Homo sapiens: one gene and its partners. The protein of the gene in region 5 purifies or fractionates together with the protein of the main gene of each other region. This does not show direct contact. Each region holds a gene or a part of one and is shown on either strand. Other genes may lie near its edges. The genes, in order: ATAD3A, DHX40, DCUN1D5, GNLY and GTPBP10.

The links.
Region 1: the proteins of GTPBP10 (region 5) and ATAD3A purify together in Homo sapiens (tandem affinity purification; one large-scale study listed by IntAct). This does not show direct contact.
Region 2: the proteins of GTPBP10 (region 5) and DHX40 fractionate together in Homo sapiens (co-fractionation; one large-scale study listed by BioGRID). This does not show direct contact.
Region 3: the proteins of GTPBP10 (region 5) and DCUN1D5 fractionate together in Homo sapiens (co-fractionation; one large-scale study listed by BioGRID). This does not show direct contact.
Region 4: the proteins of GTPBP10 (region 5) and GNLY purify together in Homo sapiens (co-immunoprecipitation; one large-scale study listed by IntAct). This does not show direct contact.

The regions. Positions count from the first base shown.
Region 1 is NC_000001.11:1,515,160-1,518,680, reverse strand, and holds part of ATAD3A (ATPase family AAA domain-containing protein 3A), read right to left. Parts: intron 3,048-3,521; exon of another isoform or gene 2,866-3,047; coding exon of another isoform or gene 2,823-2,865; intron 2,670-2,822; coding exon 2,593-2,669; intron 1,515-2,592; coding exon of another isoform or gene 1,371-1,514; coding exon 1,269-1,370; intron 966-1,268; coding exon 906-965; intron 1-905. UniProt on the Homo sapiens protein: Essential for mitochondrial network organization, mitochondrial metabolism and cell growth at organism and cellular level. May play an important role in mitochondrial protein synthesis. May also participate in mitochondrial DNA replication.
Region 2 is NC_000017.11:59,603,589-59,606,227, reverse strand, and holds part of DHX40 (probable ATP-dependent RNA helicase DHX40), read right to left. Parts: intron 1,114-2,639; coding exon 1,044-1,113; intron 783-1,043; coding exon 554-782; intron 1-553. UniProt on the Homo sapiens protein: Probable ATP-dependent RNA helicase.
Region 3 is NC_000011.10:103,050,180-103,054,175, forward strand, and holds the end of DCUN1D5 (DCN1-like protein 5), read right to left. Parts: 3' UTR 507-3,996; downstream 1-506. UniProt on the Homo sapiens protein: Contributes to the neddylation of all cullins by transferring NEDD8 from N-terminally acetylated NEDD8-conjugating E2s enzyme to different cullin C-terminal domain-RBX complexes which is necessary for the activation of cullin-RING E3 ubiquitin ligases (CRLs).
Region 4 is NC_000002.12:85,693,025-85,697,172, forward strand, and holds the start of GNLY (granulysin isoform 2 precursor), read left to right. Parts: upstream 1-1,333; 5' UTR 1,334-1,394; coding exon 1,395-1,446; intron 1,447-1,728; exon of another isoform or gene 1,729-1,891; coding exon of another isoform or gene 1,892-1,972; intron 1,973-2,295; coding exon 2,296-2,399; intron 2,400-2,933; coding exon 2,934-3,032; intron 3,033-3,963; coding exon of another isoform or gene 3,964-4,056; exon of another isoform or gene 4,057-4,148.
Region 5 is NC_000007.14:90,345,434-90,349,515, forward strand, and holds the start of GTPBP10 (GTP-binding protein 10), read left to right. Parts: upstream 1-1,282; 5' UTR 1,283-1,308; coding exon 1,309-1,341; intron 1,342-4,082. UniProt on the Homo sapiens protein: May be involved in the ribosome maturation process. Complements an ObgE(CgtA) function in E.coli ribosome maturation. Plays a role of GTPase in vitro. When missing, disorganization of the nucleolar architecture is observed.

The DNA of each region.
Region 1 (3,521 bases), on a different chromosome or scaffold from region 5:
GTGTGTGTGTGTGTACCCGTGCGGGGGGTGGGGGGGTTGTGCGTGCCTGTGGGGGGGGGTGTGTACGCCCGTGTGTGGGTGTGTGCCCATGTGCGGGTGTGTGTGTGTGTCCCTGTGACGGGAAGGCGTGTGTGCCCGTATGTGTGTGTGGGGTCTGTGCGCCCATGTGGGGGGGTTGTGTGCGTGCCCATGTGTGCGGGGGGGCTGTGCCCATGTGTATAGGGGGGTGTACGCGCGCCCATGTGTGTGGGTGTGTGTGTGTCCGTCTATGGGGGGGCATGCCCATGTGTGTGTGGGTGTGCGCCTGTGTGTGTGGGGCTGTGTGTGTGCCCGAGTGCGCGGGTGCCAGTGAGCCTGTGGGGGGTATGTGTGCGCCTGTGTGTGTGTGGGGGGGTACGTACCTGTGTGTGGTGTGTGTGTGCGTATCTGTGTGTGTGTGTGCGGGGTGTATGTGCGTACCTGTCTGTATGGGGGTGTGTTTACAGGTGTGAGTGTCCATGTGGGTGTGTGCCTGCCCGTGTTGTGTGGGGGTATGTTTGCGGGTGTGTGAGTGCAGGCCTCTGTGTGGGGGTGTCTGTGTGTGGGCCCGTGTGTGCAGGGGTGTGTGTGTGCCCGTGTGTGCAGAAGTGGGTGCACCTGTCTGTGTGTGCTGGGAGTGTGTGTGCGAGGAGTGTGTGTCCGTGTGGGTAGGTGCCTGTGTCTCCATGTACATGTGTGCACACGTCTGCATGTGTGCCTGTACACGTGTGCTGGTGCGTGTCTGTCCGAGTAGTTTCCCCTGCTCTAGCACCCACCGTCAGCAACCCCAGCGTTCTTGCCCCGTGGCCTCTGACCCACTGACTGGTCCCACAAAGCCACCTACGTTCTCAGGGACGCAGGCGCCTCGCAGGGGAGGCTGAGCTCACCTGCTGCTTCAGTTGGTCCTCGTAGCGCTGCCGGGCCAGCTTGTCTTGATACTGGGCCCTCTGGGGGAGAAGAGGGCGGCAAAGACACATCTCAGCCGGGAGCTGCAGTCTGGGCCGACTGGGCGGAGCGCCGGGGACTCCGACGCGCCATCAGCCTCACACAAACGTGGGGAGGCGCGGGGACCTCCCGTCCGGCTCAGCAGTGAGGGACCTTACAGGTCTTAGGCGTTTGTGCAAGGCCGTTCCGAGGGCAGCTCTAATGGCTGACTCCAGAGTGCCCCGGGACCACACCCAGCTCCCAGTCCTGCCCCAGGCCGCTCCCCGCAGCCGGGCGGCCTCCCTCGCGGCCTCTTGCGCTCTTACGGCCTGGTGCTGCCGGGTCTCCTCGCTCAGGGTCTTCCTCCTCTCCTCAGCCTGCGCCCGGATCTGCTCGCTCTTGAGCTGCTCCACGGCGGCCTCATACTCCTGCAGAGCACAGCACTCACCAGCTGGCACTTGCTCAGGGCTGGCACTGCCTGACAGCCGCTCCTGTGTCTGCACGGCTCCGGCACGGCAGAGACTCCATGCCCAGACTAGTGTGTGCAGCAGGCTCAGGGCTTCCAGCCGCATCTGCACCCAGGATCAGGCCCTGGAGGAATCCAGACCCACAGGCACAGAAGCACCAGCAGAAGCCCGCGAAGGCCCCCCGGGAGGGAGGCCGGACACCCCCTTTTGGACTGCACTGAGGGCAGAGCTCATGCTTATTTTAGGAATCCTGCTGAGTGGACCGGGTGCGACGGCTCTCGCTTATAATCCCAGCACTTTGGGAGGCCAAAGTGGGTGGATCAACTGAGGTTAGTAGTTCGAGACCAGCCTGAACAACATGGTGAAACCCCATCTCTACTAAAAATACAAAAATTAGCCAGATGTGGTGGCGGGCTCTTGTAGTCCCAGCTGCTCGGAGGCTGAGGAAAGAGGTTGAACCCGGGAGGTAGAGGTTGCGGTGAGCTGAGATCACGCCACTGCACACCGGCCTGGAAGACAGACTAAGACTCTGTCTATAAAAAAATAATAATATGAAACAAGGCAGGCACAGTGGCACAAGCCTGTAATCCCAGCACTTTGGGAGGCCGAGGCAGGTGGATCACTTGAAGTCAGGAGTTCAAGACCAGGCTGGCCAACATGGTGAAACCCCGACTCTACTAAAAATATAAAAATTAGCCAGGTGTGGTGGCGGGTGCCTGTAATCCCAGCTATTCAGGAGGCTGAGGCAGGAGAATTGCTTGAACCCAGGAGCGGAGGTTGCAGTGAGCCCAGATGGCACCACAGAACTCCAGCCTGGGAAACAGAGACTCCGTTTCAAAATAAATAAATAAAACGAAATAAAACAAAAAAATCCTGCTGAGTGTAATGAAATGAGAAGATCCAGGCCATCCGGACGACCAGACGCCCTCACCAACACCGGCCCTCCCTCCGGACGACCAGACGCCCTCACCAACACCAGCCCTCCCTCTCGGGCGGCTCTGCGGCAGCGTCTCTCACCTCCCTTTGTTTCCTTCTGTGAAATGAGGCGCCCAAGCTTGGCCCTGGGCCCCACTGCTGCCCATGTACACACCCCCGGCCCTACCCACCGGCAGTAGCCCTACCAATCTCCATGCCCGAACCCCATGTGCGCCCCGGCCTCCCCACCCACACCGGCCCCACTCACTTTGAGCTTGGACTGTTGCTCCAACTGCAGCGTCTGCTCCTGCATCTGTGCCAGATTCAGGGCGTCCTTGGCATAACCTGCAGACGCAAGGACACGGAGGGCAGGTGTTAGGATACACGGATGCCGCTGGGCAGGCACGCACACCAGCCAAGGGGCTTTCTGGAATCCACGGCCACGCCTCGACCTCAAAGCCCCCAGCCCTGCCTCCCCATCCTCCTTCCTAGTCAGACCTGGCGTGACGATGCACCATCCCCAGCACACGGCCTGATGCATTTGTGAGGTTTTATCCCCCCAGGGATGGTCTTGGAGAGCCACATCAGGAAGGCCATCCCACGTGGACGGGAGGAGGCTCTTTCCCAATTCAACAGAAAGTCAGGCGATGGCTAAAGTGTCCTCTATTTTTTCACGTTACATTCGCTTTTCCTAAGCTTCCAATGGCTGTTGTCATTGATCTGCTATCAAGCACATGCAGGCAAGAAAGGGAATGAATAAGAATAGGATACCAGCCAACAAGCTCAGGGTGACGAGGACAAGCATCTGACAACGTCCTCAGTTACGTTTTGTTCCTAGAGGGGAACTGACACAGGTCGATGTTTGGGTGTCGTGGGACAGAAGTACGTATTCTCTGAGCTGCTGAGGCCTCAGCATCAGGTCTCAAAATTTTCTGGGATGACAGTTTTCCCATCATAAAACTTTACCATAAAAATCTTTTGGCTGGGCGCGGTGGCTCACTACTGTACTCCCAGCACTTTGAGAGGCTGAGACGGGTGGATCACTTGAGTCCAGGAGTTAGAGACCGGCCTGACCAATGTGGTGAAACCCCATCTCTACTAAATATACAAAAATTAGCTGGGCGCAGTGGCGGACGCCTGTAATCCCAGCTACTCTGAGGCTGAGGTGGGAGGATGGCTTGAACCCCGGAGACAGAG
Region 2 (2,639 bases), on a different chromosome or scaffold from region 5:
CCTTGGATATACAAACTTAGCCAGGCGTGGTGGTGCATGCCTGTAATCCAGCTACTCAGGAGGCTGAGGCAGGAGAATAGCTTGAACCGGGAGGCAGAGGCTGCAGTGAGCCAAAATCACACCATTACACTCCAGCCTGGGCAATAAGAGCAAAACTCCGTCTCAAAGAAGAAAGAAAAAGAAAGAAAGAAAGAAAAAGCCCCTTGGAAACAAAGGGGATTCTGAGTTAATAATGCATAAATCATCACTTTTTTTTTTTTAGAGATAGTGTCTCACTCTGTCACCCCCAGGCTGGAGTGCACTGGTGAAATCACAGTTCACTGCAGCCTCAAACTCCTGGGTTCAAGCGATCCTCCTGCATCAGCCTCCCAAGTCACTGGGACTACAGGTGCACACCAACATGCCTGGCTAATTTTTATTTTTATTTTGCTAGAGATGGGATCTCACCACATTGCCCAGGTGGGTCACAACATTTTTATAAACAAAAATAGTGAAGTACTACTGGGAAGCAGTATGGCATAGTGGTTAAGAGTAGAACAAATGATTTACTCACCCTTTAGCTGCTTTACATTTTCCTTATTTGTCCATCTCCTTCTTGCATCTTCTCTCACTTCACGTCGGGCCACACTGCTCAAATCATGTGCATTAAATTCATGCAACTTGGGTAACAAGTCTCTTACCCATTCATAACGGATTGGGCATACAATTCTTGCGTAGACTTTGGTGGTAACCAATACCTCATGAAAAATGATCCATTCAAGTTTGGTTTCCTGTTCATGAAGCTATACAAAACATTTCTTTTAATGATGGTAACTCAATAACCTGCCCTATTCCACATTAAACCAACCAAATAGTCCAAATCCTTCTCAATTAATTCCTATCTTCTTCAAACAGGAGGCACAGGCCAACCAATACCCTTATAGATCTATGTAATATAGATATATGTAAATTTAACTCCAAAGTGAAAAGTAGAAGACATTTGTATATTACTTATTTCTACAACTTTACAAATTTCTTCCCTTTATTAAAAATGAAGTACTTACTGCTGAGGAAGGATGAATGTGAACTGGGCTTCCACGACCATCCATTGTGCAAAACGTTCTCCCAACAGATCTATAAACAGAAAAACAAAATGATAAAGACTACAACAGTAAAGCAATGAAGTAAATGGAGCATTACATTCAGCAATGAACAATTACAATATGTTCTACTACAAACAGCATTATAAGCAGAGGTTTACATTTATTCAACTGTCACTACAAGCTCTCTACCAATTCATCTTAAATTAATTATACAGGTTAAACAGTCACTACAATTAGGTATAAGTCACTACAATTAGGTATAAGGAATCAGTACAAATATTAACAATAATCTATGAGCTTTGAGAGCCAGGAACTTTATTAAAAAGTCAAAACTAAAATTCAAATAAATTAGCTAGACTTCTCAAGATCACCAGCGCTAACGCATGGTAAAACCAAGTCCTAAACAGTTCTTCTGACTTAAATATGGTTTCTTTATGTTATACTATGCTGCATCTCTTTTTAAAGGGATGATTTTTTCACTACTCTAAAACTTGACAATTAATCTATCATTTTTCCGATTCATGCCCTTATTTTCTTCTACATTACCCTACCTAAATGTCATTCCAAAAAACTTGTCAAAAAAATAAACCTAGTTCATTTGTCATAATTTATTTCCTATAGTACTTTGTATATATTCATAGTATAACCCAGATCAGACTGCACTGTAATTATTCACTTACATATCTGTACCCTCCATTAGACTCAGGTATCATCAAGAATGATGTAAGGACTCATGTTACTCTACTTTTCTATTTTTAGTACCTGCCCAGTGTTTGGCATACAGAGGGTAACCAAGATATACCATATTTTTAAAAGTGTGAAACAATCTAAATTTACAGAAAAGTTGAGAGTAAAAAAATTTTTACCTGAATCATTTGACAGCAAACTGCCAACCTAATACCCCATCATCCTCAAATACTCGACTGTGCACTTCTTACAATCAACAATCAAGAACATTCTCCGACATGACTATAACCATCAAAACCAGGAAATTAACACTGATACATTACTAACAATTAATCCTCAGACCCCACTGACATTTCACCAATTTGTCTTAATAATATCCTTTATAGCAAAAGGATGTAATTCAGAATCATACATTGCCTTTATTTTTCATTTCCCTTTGGTCTCCTTCATTCTGGAATACTTCCTCAGTCTTTGACTTTCATGATCTTGGCACCTTTAAAGATGTCAAGGCTAGTTACTGTGTGGTATGTCCCTCAGTTTGAGTTTGTCTGTTTCAGGATGATTAGATTCAGGTTATGCATCTTTAGCAGGAATATCACAGACATAATGCTGTGTTTTTCTCATTGTATCCTATCAGGAAGAACATGATTTTTATTTATTTCATTATGTTCACTTTGATTGCTTGATTTAGGTCACATATGCCAGGATTCTCCACTGTAAAGTTACTTTTTGCTTTTGTAATTAACAAAAATTTTATGGAGAGGTGCTTGTAAACAATTCCATTTCTCAATAAACTTTTACTCATTTATTTATACCACGATAGACACGATTTCACATTTTATTAAGTGCATAATAATCCGCTACTATCAC
Region 3 (3,996 bases), on a different chromosome or scaffold from region 5:
AAAATACAGTGTGGATTTTTCAAGATGGCATAGTACTCTATTGCATAAATATGCTGTAATTTATTCAACAAATTTTCTATGCTTAAACATTTAGGTTATTTCATTTTTTCTATCAAATATGTTATGATAAAAATCTTTTGAAAGTTTTAAAATTTATTCTTTAAGATGATAGGCATAGAATTGTTGGGTGAGAAAATATGAAACTTACTAAGGCTTTTGGATGTATCTCCCTAAATGACTTCCAGAAAAGGCTATGCCAATGTATATTCCCTCCAGCAAAGTATAACAATTCCTGTCTCCTTGTGTCATCAAACATGGGCATTATCAATTTTTAAAATCTGTGCCAATTTGGAAGGCAAAAATACCATAGTTGTTTTAATATGCATTTCTTGTCTTGGCTTACATTTGTTTAATTCCTTTAATAGTAGGTCAACATTATAAACAGGGTTGTACTAGAATGTGTGCCATACAGTGAATTAGAAAAATACACAAAAGATTACTGGACATCTTATACAAGTGAAATCATTTATTTATCTATTCATTTTCATTTATTCCATTTATTGAGTGCTTTTCTATACTGTGGATAGTTCTGAGTACTGGTGAAATAAAAGCAAAAACACACAGTCCCTGCTCTCAAGGAGCTCACAGTTAAGAAAACAGATATGTAAGTATGCTACTGTAATATGGTGTTATCAGCACTCTAATAAAAGTATATACAAGGTTAGTAGTGTCTCCATGATGGGTAAGGAAAGGGTGTTTCTTTAAAAATAATCAGACCCAGAATAAGGGGGGAAACCCTCCATGTCTACAGGATGCAGTAGAGATCTTGGGCATTCCAGAGACAAAGAAAGGTGCTGCAACTTCTGGACATAAAGAAGTTCCAATAAATCCAATCTTACATCATAAAGACTAAGCTTACCATCACCAATTCATACATTGGAAGTTCAAGAACCAGATTTCCCTTATTCAGTTGGTGGTCTGTCATCTTTTTTCCAATTATTTTGTAACATTGGACTAGTCAACATACCATCTTATGACCAAATTTAAAACAAATTACTGGTTAAGGAAAAAAATGACTCATTAGTAAGTAAAGTGACAAGCAGAACAAATGAACCATCCATCCTTCAGGAAACTTTTTTAAAAAAAGATTTTCTGCATGGTTTATCTTGTGGTTTGCTTCTTCTGACAAGGCAGCAACCTTAGAAATGATATCAGCATGAAAAGTTCATGACTTATTCACCTGTGACATAACTTTGGAGTCTCATGGGAGTTCCAAAGTTTTTCTCCTGATCATGAGATTTGGTGGCTTCACATATTTACTTCCCCCCCCCCCCCGCCACCCCTGTGTTAACAGGTTTACTGGCAGATGCAGGAGGTGACATTCCAGTGGCTCCATTATTTTCATTAGTCAATATCATTTATTCTTTGTCATTAAACAAATATTTGGAACCCACTACATTCAAAGCATAGCATTAGGTTTTACTTAGCATTTTACAAACACTTTTAAGTACAATATCAATATGCACATCAATCTTACCTCTACCTCACAGAAGAGGAAAAAGGGAGCTCAAGTTATCTTCTCAAGGTCACATAGTCACTAAGAAGCAAAGGACTCTGAACACAGATCTCTGAACTCCAAACCCAGGGCTCTTTCCAGCCTTCCTTACTAGTCTCCCTGTCCTCAGATTTTCCTGCTGCCTAATTAATGTTCTTAAAACACCAAAGTAGCCCCAGCCTTCATCGCGTCTCATCTGCTCTGAAAATCCACTTTGACTATTTCAGTCCACAGAACTCACTCTCCTCTGAACTCCTATAGCTTATTGTCATATTATTCAACTGGCACTAACTCAGAAAATGCTTAGTGAGATCTGTCTTTAATTATGAAATAATTTTAGTGTCTATTTAGAAGACACTGTGCCCGGTTATGTGAGACTGCTCCAGTACTACTTAAACGTAAGTTTTATTCAGTTCTGCAAATGCTTTTGACAACCTACCATGAGTCAGGCACCATGCTGAGAGCTGAAGACATGGTTTCTGCCCTCAAGAATCTCAGTCTAATGGGAATGTGGATATGTAAACGTTTTACAGACATATGTGTACAATTGGTCATTCATTCATTAATTCAGTAAGCAAACTCAATTTGCAGGCCATGAGAGATAAGTAAAATACGGTCCATTTCTTTTAAGTAACTTGCAGTCTAGGATCAAAGAGAGACGTGAATTTTTTCATTCATTAAATACCTATTATGTGGTGGAAACAAGTGAGGAACACCTATGAATAACATGGTCTCTGTTCACAGAGCTGTTTCCTTTTTAAGGATCATAATCTTCAAAGGTAGAAACTAACAACTACACTGTTTTATCCTGTGTAATAAGAGGGCATAGCAAAGCCTGGGCCTATGGATATTTATTGGATATTGATTCATTCCTTCATTCTTGTATCTACTCCAAGTCTCTCTTGGTAGTTCTTACATATCATCCTTTTTTAGACCAGCTCTAGATAATGAATCTAAGATAGAATTATCATAAACCTTATAGTTCTAGTGTAAGTATTTCCAAAGATACTTGGAATATTTTTCATGTTATTCCAAACACCAACCACTTCTTGGCTTTTTATAGAGAGAATAAAATAGAAATTCCTAAATAGAAATTCAGTTTTCTCACTCTATTACTTTGTTCACATGTTTGATGTCAAGGTGCAAATGTGCAAGTAGTGGTTTTTAAAACCTGCTATTCAGAGAGCAAGGAGTTCCTTTGAGGTTTTTCAGAAATAATACTAGCAGCGAGGAAGACAGGGAGCTTCCCACTTAACCAGAGTATTTTAGCTTTCTGTTTTAAATACTGTGCTTCTAGGTAAAACTTATTTTGCAATAGGGTCCTGCTACTTAATTAAAAAAAAACTGATTTAAGAGACTCAATGTAATAAGACATCATAGAATTTTGGCTTTTTATTTTTTAATATTTCTCTTTTTTAAAAATAGAGTCCTTCCTATGAAGTCAAACCAATCCACTTTTAAAGACAGCCATAGTAGCTATGTTACTGAGCATTTATTACTTGGTGCCAACTACACTGTAAATTGATCATTTAGTCATATTTAGCATCCATTTAATGAACCATTTCACTATACTGCCTACAAAGAAAGCAAGTAATACAAATCAGTGTGCATCATTGACATTACAGATTAATTTCCTAAGAGATTTGCATTTCTAAATATGTCTATGTAGACAGAAGAAATAAGACCTGGTGTTCGATATATCAGTAGGATGACTGATCTATTAACACTAAACTATTGTACATTTCAAAATAGCTAAAGAGAATTCGAATGTTCCTAGTGTAAAGAAAACATAAATATTTAAGGTGATGGATATCCCAATTATCTTCATTTAATTATATGAATATATCATACTATCACATGTACCCCCCAAATAAATACATTATGTATCAATGAATTTTAATTATATGAATATATCATACTATCACATGTACCCCCAAATAAATACATCATGTATCAATGAATTTTAATTATATGAATATATCATATTATCACATGTACCCCCCAAATAAATACATCTATTATGTATCAATGAAAAAAATGTATCTGAGTGGTTCAATTTTTCCATTTGACTCTACTATATATAACACTTATTGAACACAAGTCCATCCTATGAGGTTCAATTGATGTTTTTCCAGATAGCAAAGAGTAACTAATATTTACTGCCTGTATTTCATTTCATCCTCAAAATAATGCTATTAGATAAGGACTATTATTATCCTCATGTTACAGACAAGGAAATGAAAGAACTAGCACACAGAAATAGGTACCCTAAAAGGACTAGGGGTGCAAGAGGACCATGTATGGGAAAACTTTCCAGGTGAAAAGCAGGAAAAAGAACCTCATTCCAGAAGGTTCCATTTCATGTCAAACTTCTCAAACTGACGTAAGCCAGATAGAGAGAACCTCCCAATTTCCACATCTATGTCTCCTGTTTACTCCAA
Region 4 (4,148 bases), on a different chromosome or scaffold from region 5:
TGGTCTCATCTACTTGGGAGGCTGAGGTGGGGGGATTGTTGGAGCCTGGGCGGTTGAGGCTGCAGTGATCTGTGATTGCACCACTGCACTCTAGCCTGAGGTACAGAGCAAGAACTTGTATCAGAAAAAAAAAAAAAAAGTCCTGCGGTAGCTGACACTGCCATTGCCTATACGATTCCCATTCCCTCATCCTCCCTAGCAGGATATCAATTTTGTTCGAAGTGTCAATGAAGGCCAGGTGCGGTGGCTGATGCCTGTAATCCTAACACTTTGGGAGGCCGAGGCAGGCGGATCACCTGAGGTCAGGAGTTCAAGACCAGCCTGGCCAACATGGTGAAACCCTGTCTCTACTAAAAACACACAAATTAGCAGGGCATGGTGGCGTGCACCTGTAATCCCAGCTACTCAGGAGGCTGAGACAGGAGAATCACTTGAACCCGGAGGTGGAGGTTGCAATCAGCCAAGATCACACCACTGCACTTCAGCTTGGGTGACAAGAGTGAAACTCTGTCTCAAAAAAGAAAAACAAAACAAAAACAAACAACAACAACAAAAAGCAAAGTGTCAGTGAAGGTCCAGCAAAAGACTCCCTTCCTATTGCCCTTTGCAGCCAGGGTCATCATGTGACACAGTTCAGATCAATGAGATGGAGGCTGAGGGTCCCTGGGAAAGATGTTTTTCCTATACAGGTACCACCTCTTTCAGCTTCACTCTTTCCATTTTCCACGTGAACAGGCCTTGTAGCCTGGAGGAGCTACAGCTGCCTTTTTGAGATGCTGAGGCACCCTGTCTGAAGAAGGCCCTCACATCACTCAACTTGACTACTGGGTGAGCCCTTGGAGAGGCTTCCCAGCCTCTGCTCTTCAAGCCGAAGTACCACAGGGGACACGAGTCCCAGAGTTACAGGACCCCAGCTATGGTTCATGTGTAAAGGGAACCATTAGGCAACCAGGGGAAATGATGAAGAAGATCTACATTTACAAATGTGGAAAGATGTTCGTGGTATATTGTTAAATTAAAAAGCTGTTTAAAAATAGTTTTTGGGTCAAGTGAGATGACTCACTTATACTTTTAGTATAAGTATGTCCCATGCAATATCTGGAACGTACTTGTACTAAGGGGTTTCTCCCTCCATCGGCACATCCCAGGCATCCTGGCAGCTGCTGGCCTCCAGCAACCCCACATTCTAGTTGTGTGGGAGTGGGGTGTGGCATGGACCCTGTGGGCTACCACTGCCCTGAGCTGCTTCTTCACACACTGGTATTTGTATCTGTGGTAAACCCAGTGACACGGGGGAGATGACATACAAAAAGGGCAGGACCTGAGAAAGATTAAGCTGCAGGCTCCCTGCCCATAAAACAGGGTGTGAAAGGCATCTCAGCGGCTGCCCCACCATGGCTACCTGGGCCCTCCTGCTCCTTGCAGCCATGCTCCTGGGCAACCCAGGTAAGGCCTTCCCCTCGGGATCGATCCTGATGGCCCACCCAGCCTCGCACTCTCAGGCTGGCTGAACCTGGAGCTTGGACTCTGTGGGCACCCAGGTGCCCCTGCCTCCCCCCGGCCTTCTCCCCCGTCATGGAGGCCTGGCCTCCCCTCAGAGCCAGGCTTAGTCCAGTGTGCTGCCCAGCCTGTCACTGGCCTGGCCAAGGAGGAGAGACAGGCCAGGGATTCTGGTCCTAACTCTACTGGCCACACTGTGTGGCCTGAGACCCCCCTTTCCCTCCCAAGCCCCTGCCTCCGCATCTGCGTGGTGAAGGCCATTGGCCCTCATCGGTGGATCTGCGTTTCCTCGGGCCTACACTGTCTAGGATTGTGCGGGGCTGGTGAGAGAACAAGATCTCTTCTGTGTTCAAGGCAGACTTCCTGCCCCCTGCACCCTGCTCTCTCCCAGGCCTTGAGGTCAGTGTGAGCCCCAAGGGCAAGAACACTTCTGGAAGGGAGAGTGGATTTGGCTGGGCCATCTGGATGGAAGGTAAAAAAAGAAAATCCCTTGAAAGGAGATTGAGGGAAGTTTCTAGACAAACCGACCCCCAAATCTGTGTTGCTGGGGGAACAGAGGAGAAGAGAGAGTCTCGCCCTCCTGGCTTTCTAGAAGGAACGTGAGAACACGTGTTTGTGCTGAGAGTGGGTCAGAGCGGCTCCAGGGCAAAGCATGTGGACAGGTATCCTGGCCCCCTGCAAGGCCCAGCTCCTGTCCTAGGCCCTGGTCACCTCCTGGACTCCCACCAGCCAGGAGAACGGGCTTTCCCTCTCCTTCCGCCTGCGGAGGGGAAGCTGAAGTCTGGTCTTCCTCAGGTCTGGTCTTCTCTCGTCTGAGCCCTGAGTACTACGACCTGGCAAGAGCCCACCTGCGTGATGAGGAGAAATCCTGCCCGTGCCTGGCCCAGGAGGGCCCCCAGGTACGTGTTGGCTCTCTGCTCACCTGCCACAGTCCCTCTCCTTTCCCTCCTCCCTGGTGGCTCCTGGGGTGAGGTCTGGAGCTCTCTAATGGTCAGGAGGTGGGAGTGGAGGCTGGGCTGTTTCTGACGATGCTGGTTTTGTTGAATTCATGTCTGGCCAGGAGGGCTACAGGTATCTGGCAGACTCCTCCAGGAGGATCCTCTGGGGTCTCACCCTCCAAGGAGCCTGGGGCTGCAGAACCCAAATAGGCAGACTCCCCTGGGAGTTCCTCAATAGGAGAGGGGCAAGTGCAGGGCTGGGAAAGTACTGGGGGTGTGGGAGGCTGTTTCTGGGGTGTCTCAGAGCCTCTAAGACAAGCAAAAGGGTGGGCAGGGGCCAGGCAGCCAGTTCAGGCCTTCAGTGTATCCACGCTCTGGGAAGAGATCACGGACATTCCTGCCGGCCTCAGAAACACAAAGGGCCCCTTTCCTGGGCACTTTCACGCGCTCCCAGAGTGTCTGAGAGACCATCATAAGGGCTTTCTTTCCTGACAGGGTGACCTGTTGACCAAAACACAGGAGCTGGGCCGTGACTACAGGACCTGTCTGACGATAGTCCAAAAACTGAAGAAGATGGTGGATAAGCCCACCCAGGTGAGGCCAAGGGGCTACAGAGCCTCCTGTCTGCTGCTCAATGGAGGGGCCAGCCTGTGACCAGGTCGGGGATCGGGGAGCCCGGGGGCACCTTGCACAGTGATCCTGGGGGAGGGCTTCCTAGAAGGGAATCTGTGAGTCCCCGTGTGTCTGTGGATGAATTTCAGAGAACTTGTGAAATTGTGACTCTCTGGAACTGTGTAAGTCAGACGGCAGAGTATACATGGTTTTCATCATGTATCCTCAAAGAGGGCTTGTCCCAGAGAAGTTAGGAATCTTCCCCTAAAGCCCTAACATTTGTGTCCAAGGCAGAGTTTGAGAAGCTAGTTCCCCAAGAGGCCTGGGTCAGGACTGATAAATCCCAGATCTGCTACTTCCAAGCTGCATGGCCTTGGGCAAGTCACTTCCACTTTCTGAGCCTCTGTTATCTTATCTTTGAAATGTGATGGATAATAGTCCCTATCTTGCAAGTTGTCAAACCCTTTTTTTTTTTTTTTCCTTGAGATAGGATCTTACTCTGAGACCCAGGCTGGAGTGCACTGGTGTGATCTTGGCTCACTGCAACCTCTGCCTCCCTGGCCCAAGCAATTCTCCTGTCTAAGCCTCCTGAGTACCTGGGGCTCCAGGTGTGCGCCACCATGCCCAGCTAATTTTTGTACTTTTGTAGAAACAGGGTCTCACTGTGTTGCCCAGGCTGGTCTCCAACTTCTGAGCTGAAGCAATCCACCTGCCTTGGCCTCCCAAAGTGTGGGATTACAGGCATGAGCCACTGCACCTGGCTGCTGAAGCTTTTTAAAAGAGCTGAGGGCTGGGATGTACTTAGCTCCACGTCCAGCACTGAGTAAATGCTTAACGAATGACTGTGTTACTACCAAGAATTATTGTTTCACTCTCCCTCCTTCCCTCTCCTCTGCTGCCCCAAACTACTCAGCATCCTGGCACTGCAGGCTCGCACTTAGCCCTGGATACCCAGATTCATCCTCCTCCCCTGGGATGGCATAGAAGAGACTTTAAAACCAAATGAGCCAAGACTCCAAGCTCTGACCACACCTCCCACCCCACCAGTCTTCTCTATGCACCCCCTCTATCTGGAGCCCCCAGCCAGGTCCTGGACCC
Region 5 (4,082 bases):
ATCAAGACGGGGTTTTCACATCATGTCTTTCCAAATAATCACTGTCCTAAGTGAGGAGTAGAAGACACTGTCACATTGAGGTATTAGTCAGTTTTCACAGTGCCATAAAGAACTGCGCAGACTGGGTAATTTATAAAGGAAAGAGGCTTAATTGATTCACAGTTCTACATGGCTGGGGAGGCCTTAGAAAACTTATAATCATGGCAAAAGGGGAAGCGGAAACAAGCACCTTCTTCACATGGCAAGCAGGAGAGAGAAGAAAGAAGGAGGAACTTCCAAACACTTATAAAACCGTCAGCTCTTGTGGGAACTCCCTATCAGGAGAGCGGCAGGAGAGAAACAGCCCTGCATGATCCAATCACTTCCCTACTTCCACAATGGGGATTACAAATGAAGATGAGATTTGGGTGGCGACACAGAGCCATATCGTATCAAAGTATGAAAGGTTTCTAGGATTTATTAGTTTGGGTTGTTAAGAGTTATACGGCTGGCAACGCTGTGCAGGGCCGTTTACTTCAGCTGCATACATTTTTTCGCTGCATGAGGGGTTGGGGAGAGCTACTCTCTTCTGGTCCTGAAAAGTAATCAAGAGAGAGAGGGATTTTTCACATCGTGTCTTAATTCTCACAAAGGCACGCTTCAAATGACGGATAAAAACCCGTCTTCCCGACTCCAAGAAGCTACTTTCTGACAGTTGTAAACAAGCTTCTTTCTCTTACTGCACAGGAGAGTCCTCTTACAGATCTCAGATCCTGACATTATTTTCAATAAAACTTTGTGCGGCCGCTAGTTTTAAATTCATGGTCTCCTGGAAGCTTTGGCTGGAGACTACTCAGCTCGTCACTGAACTAACGGCTTTTGGGGGTTCTTTTTTCCCAGTTGAGTTTCTGTGTCTTTTACACGTTTGGTTTTATGGTCCGTTGGAGGTTTTTTCACGCTGAGGGTGAAGATTCTTAGTTTCCTCAATTAGCATAAAAGCTGCTCCAAGGCTGCTGAGTCTTCAGTTCCATTCCATTCAAAATGTTAATTCCTGAGACACGCAACCTACGCCCTACTGTCCTTTGTCCCACGGCTTCTCGAGATTATCTCTGTGTTTTAATAGATAAAACGCCTTCTCTCCCCACCCGTGGGGTGCAAAGCACAGCGCATGGGGCTGGTGGCGCCCGAGAGCATCACACAACGCATGCGCCAGTCCGCAGGTGTGGGCGGAGGAGAAATCGCGTCGGCGGCAGGGGATGACGTAAAAAGGCCGCGCTGTACTGCGGCTTGTGCCGCTTCCGCAAGAAGGTTTCCTGGCCTGTTGCAGCCATGGTGCATTGCAGTTGCGTGTTGTTCAGAAAGGTCCGTGCGGGTCCCCTCAGCCTGGTCCCCTTAGCGCTGACAGCTCTGGTTCTTCTTTGCTCCCCTGTCTCTCCACTACTGTCTTCGTGGCGGCCTTTTCCTTGCTTGGTTTTCCCATAGACTTCTCCGCCCCTCCTGTAGTGGCGCTTTGTCAGTAAGCGGTGACAGTGGTGTGTGTACCTGGCGTGGTTTGGACGGTTGTTTGGGGGCAGGGGCAGGGTTTGAAGTTCTTTAGAGACATAGTGTGCACGTGGTATGAGGAACTGGGATACCTGCCTGCTGTGGCCCAAATGTTGTGGTGGTTTTTTTTCCTTTAATGTCCACAGCCTGTTTTTATATATTTCTCCTTGAGTGCGCTGTTTAAGGTTTTTCTAATGGATTTTTATGAAGACACGAAAGCGTGTAATTGATGTGCCTTCCTGCAGAACATTTAGGTCGATTTTTGTGTGGTGTCGGTCTTAAGAATCGTTTCCGTAAAAATTTACAACTGCTTTGAATTTTTATTTTTTAAATCTTATCCTATCAGTAATGCTTTTTGAAACGTTGCCTGCGTCATATTTGGCCATTACTTTATTTCTAACGACCAGAGTAAAATACTCCTTTTAAGTAAGGCTCCTAAACCCCTGAATCTGATTAATCTAGAGCAGGAAAAAAGTGTTACATATTTAATGGAACTGTAGAAACTCTCCTCGAGTATATCAGAATGGTCAATATTTCAACTTTCTTGAAAAAAAAATCCCATTTGTTTTTTATAATAGCTATCCTAAATGACTAGAGATGTGGATTATGAATTTAAGAAATTACTCCTTAAGTTATTTTGATTTTAATAGCCTAAGAGGTTAATACGTAAGTCCTTTACCTACAAGAAGTTCTTGATTTAGTGAAGGAAACAGGTAAACACTAAATGCAGCGTGAGATTTATAAAGGTGTAATAATAGAGATATAATCAAATTGCTGGGAGAGCCAGCAAAGTCAGAGAATTGATTAGAGGAATTTGGAAAGACGTTAGAAAATATGACGTTTAGGTGGATTTATGATAGGAAAAACAAATGACATTCTAAGTAGAGGAAAAGCATGAGCAGAATGGCATGTAGAAATGGCGGTATTTCATGTAGTACAGAGCAAAGAGGAAGAGAGGAAGGGTTGAGCAAGTGAAAAGGATACAGGAAGGAACTAGGCATGGTAGGTGAGCCTATTGTTCTTGCTACTTGGGAGGCTGAGGTGGGAGGATCCCTTAAGGCCAGGAGTTCAAGACCAGTCTGGGCAACATAGCAAGACCCCATCTTTAAAACAGTCGGGGTGGTGTGGTGCCTGTAGTCCCAGCCATTTGGGAGGCTGAAGTGGGAGAATTGCTTGAGCCCAGGAGTTTGAGGCTGCAGCAATGATAGTGCTATGATAGTGCCACGGCACTCGAGCCCAGGCACCAGAACCAGACCCTGTTTCAAAAAAAAGAAAATAAAAGATACCAGAAGGGTATTTTAGTAGCTTTGGATATACAGTTGACCCTTCAAGAACATGGGGGTTAGAGATGCCCCCGCCACAGCTGAAAATCTTCATGTAACTTTCAACTCCCCCCACAAAACAACTACTAATAATCTGTTGGCTGGAAGCCTCACTGATAACATAAGCCGTCAGTTGACACATATAAAATATATATATAGTATATACTGTATTCTTAAATTAAGCTAGAGAAAAGAAACAGTTACTAAGAAAGTCAGAAAGAAGGGAAAATATATTTACTGTTCATTAAATGGAAGTGAATTGTAAAGGTCTTCATCCTTATAGTCTTCATGTTGAATAGACTGAGGAGGAAGAGGAGGAGTTGGTCTTGCTCTCTTGGGTGGCAGAGGCAGAAGGGGTGGGGGTGGAGGAGGTGGAAGGGGAGGCAAGAGAGGCAGACACACTATGTGTAACTTTATGGAAGTACATCATAATTTCTGTCATGCTTTTGCTTTTCTCTTTCCCCCAAAAAAATGTTTCTATAGGGTACCAATACCTCTTCCACCATTTGCTTTGGTTTCAGTGCCTCTTCACAGAAGGGTCCATGTCATAAAAGAAGTCAAAAGCAGTCCTGAACAATAGGAGCTCTTCTGCCAGATTATCTAATGTTCGTTTTTCTGGTAGTTTATTCTGTGTTTTCTTCCTTGTTATCTGGCACTGGATCTGAAGCACTCATCAAGCTGTCTTCTGTTAATTCCTCTGGTTTGGTGGCTGTTAGCTCTTGAGTTTCTTCAAGATCCATATCTTGAAGTCCTTTACCCACTTTCCCGCCGTTTTTGGCATATTCACAGCCTCTTTCATGATTTCCTTGATTGGCTCTTTTGTAAATCCTGTGAAATTATAACACAACACAACACCTGGACAAAGTTTTCTCCAGCACGAACTTACTGTTTGGGGCTTATGGCTTTCATGGCTTTTTCAATAATAATGGCATCTTCAATTATGTAAACTTCAGATTTTCCTGAAGTTTTCTCTATTAGTGTTCTTTTCCATGGTTGACAATCCTTTTCGTAGAAAATCATGTTTAATGAGCCTTAAAGGTCCTTGCGACCCCGTGATCTAGAGGCTGATTTACAGACATTGTGTTTGGGGGCAAGGACACCACTTCAGTGCCTTTGATGTTGAACTCATGGGGTTCTGGGTAGCGGGGAGGTGGGGCACTGTCCATTAGCAGAGGAACTTTACAAGTCAGTCTCGTATTGGGAAGGTACTTCCTGACTTCAGGGAGAAAGCATCCATGG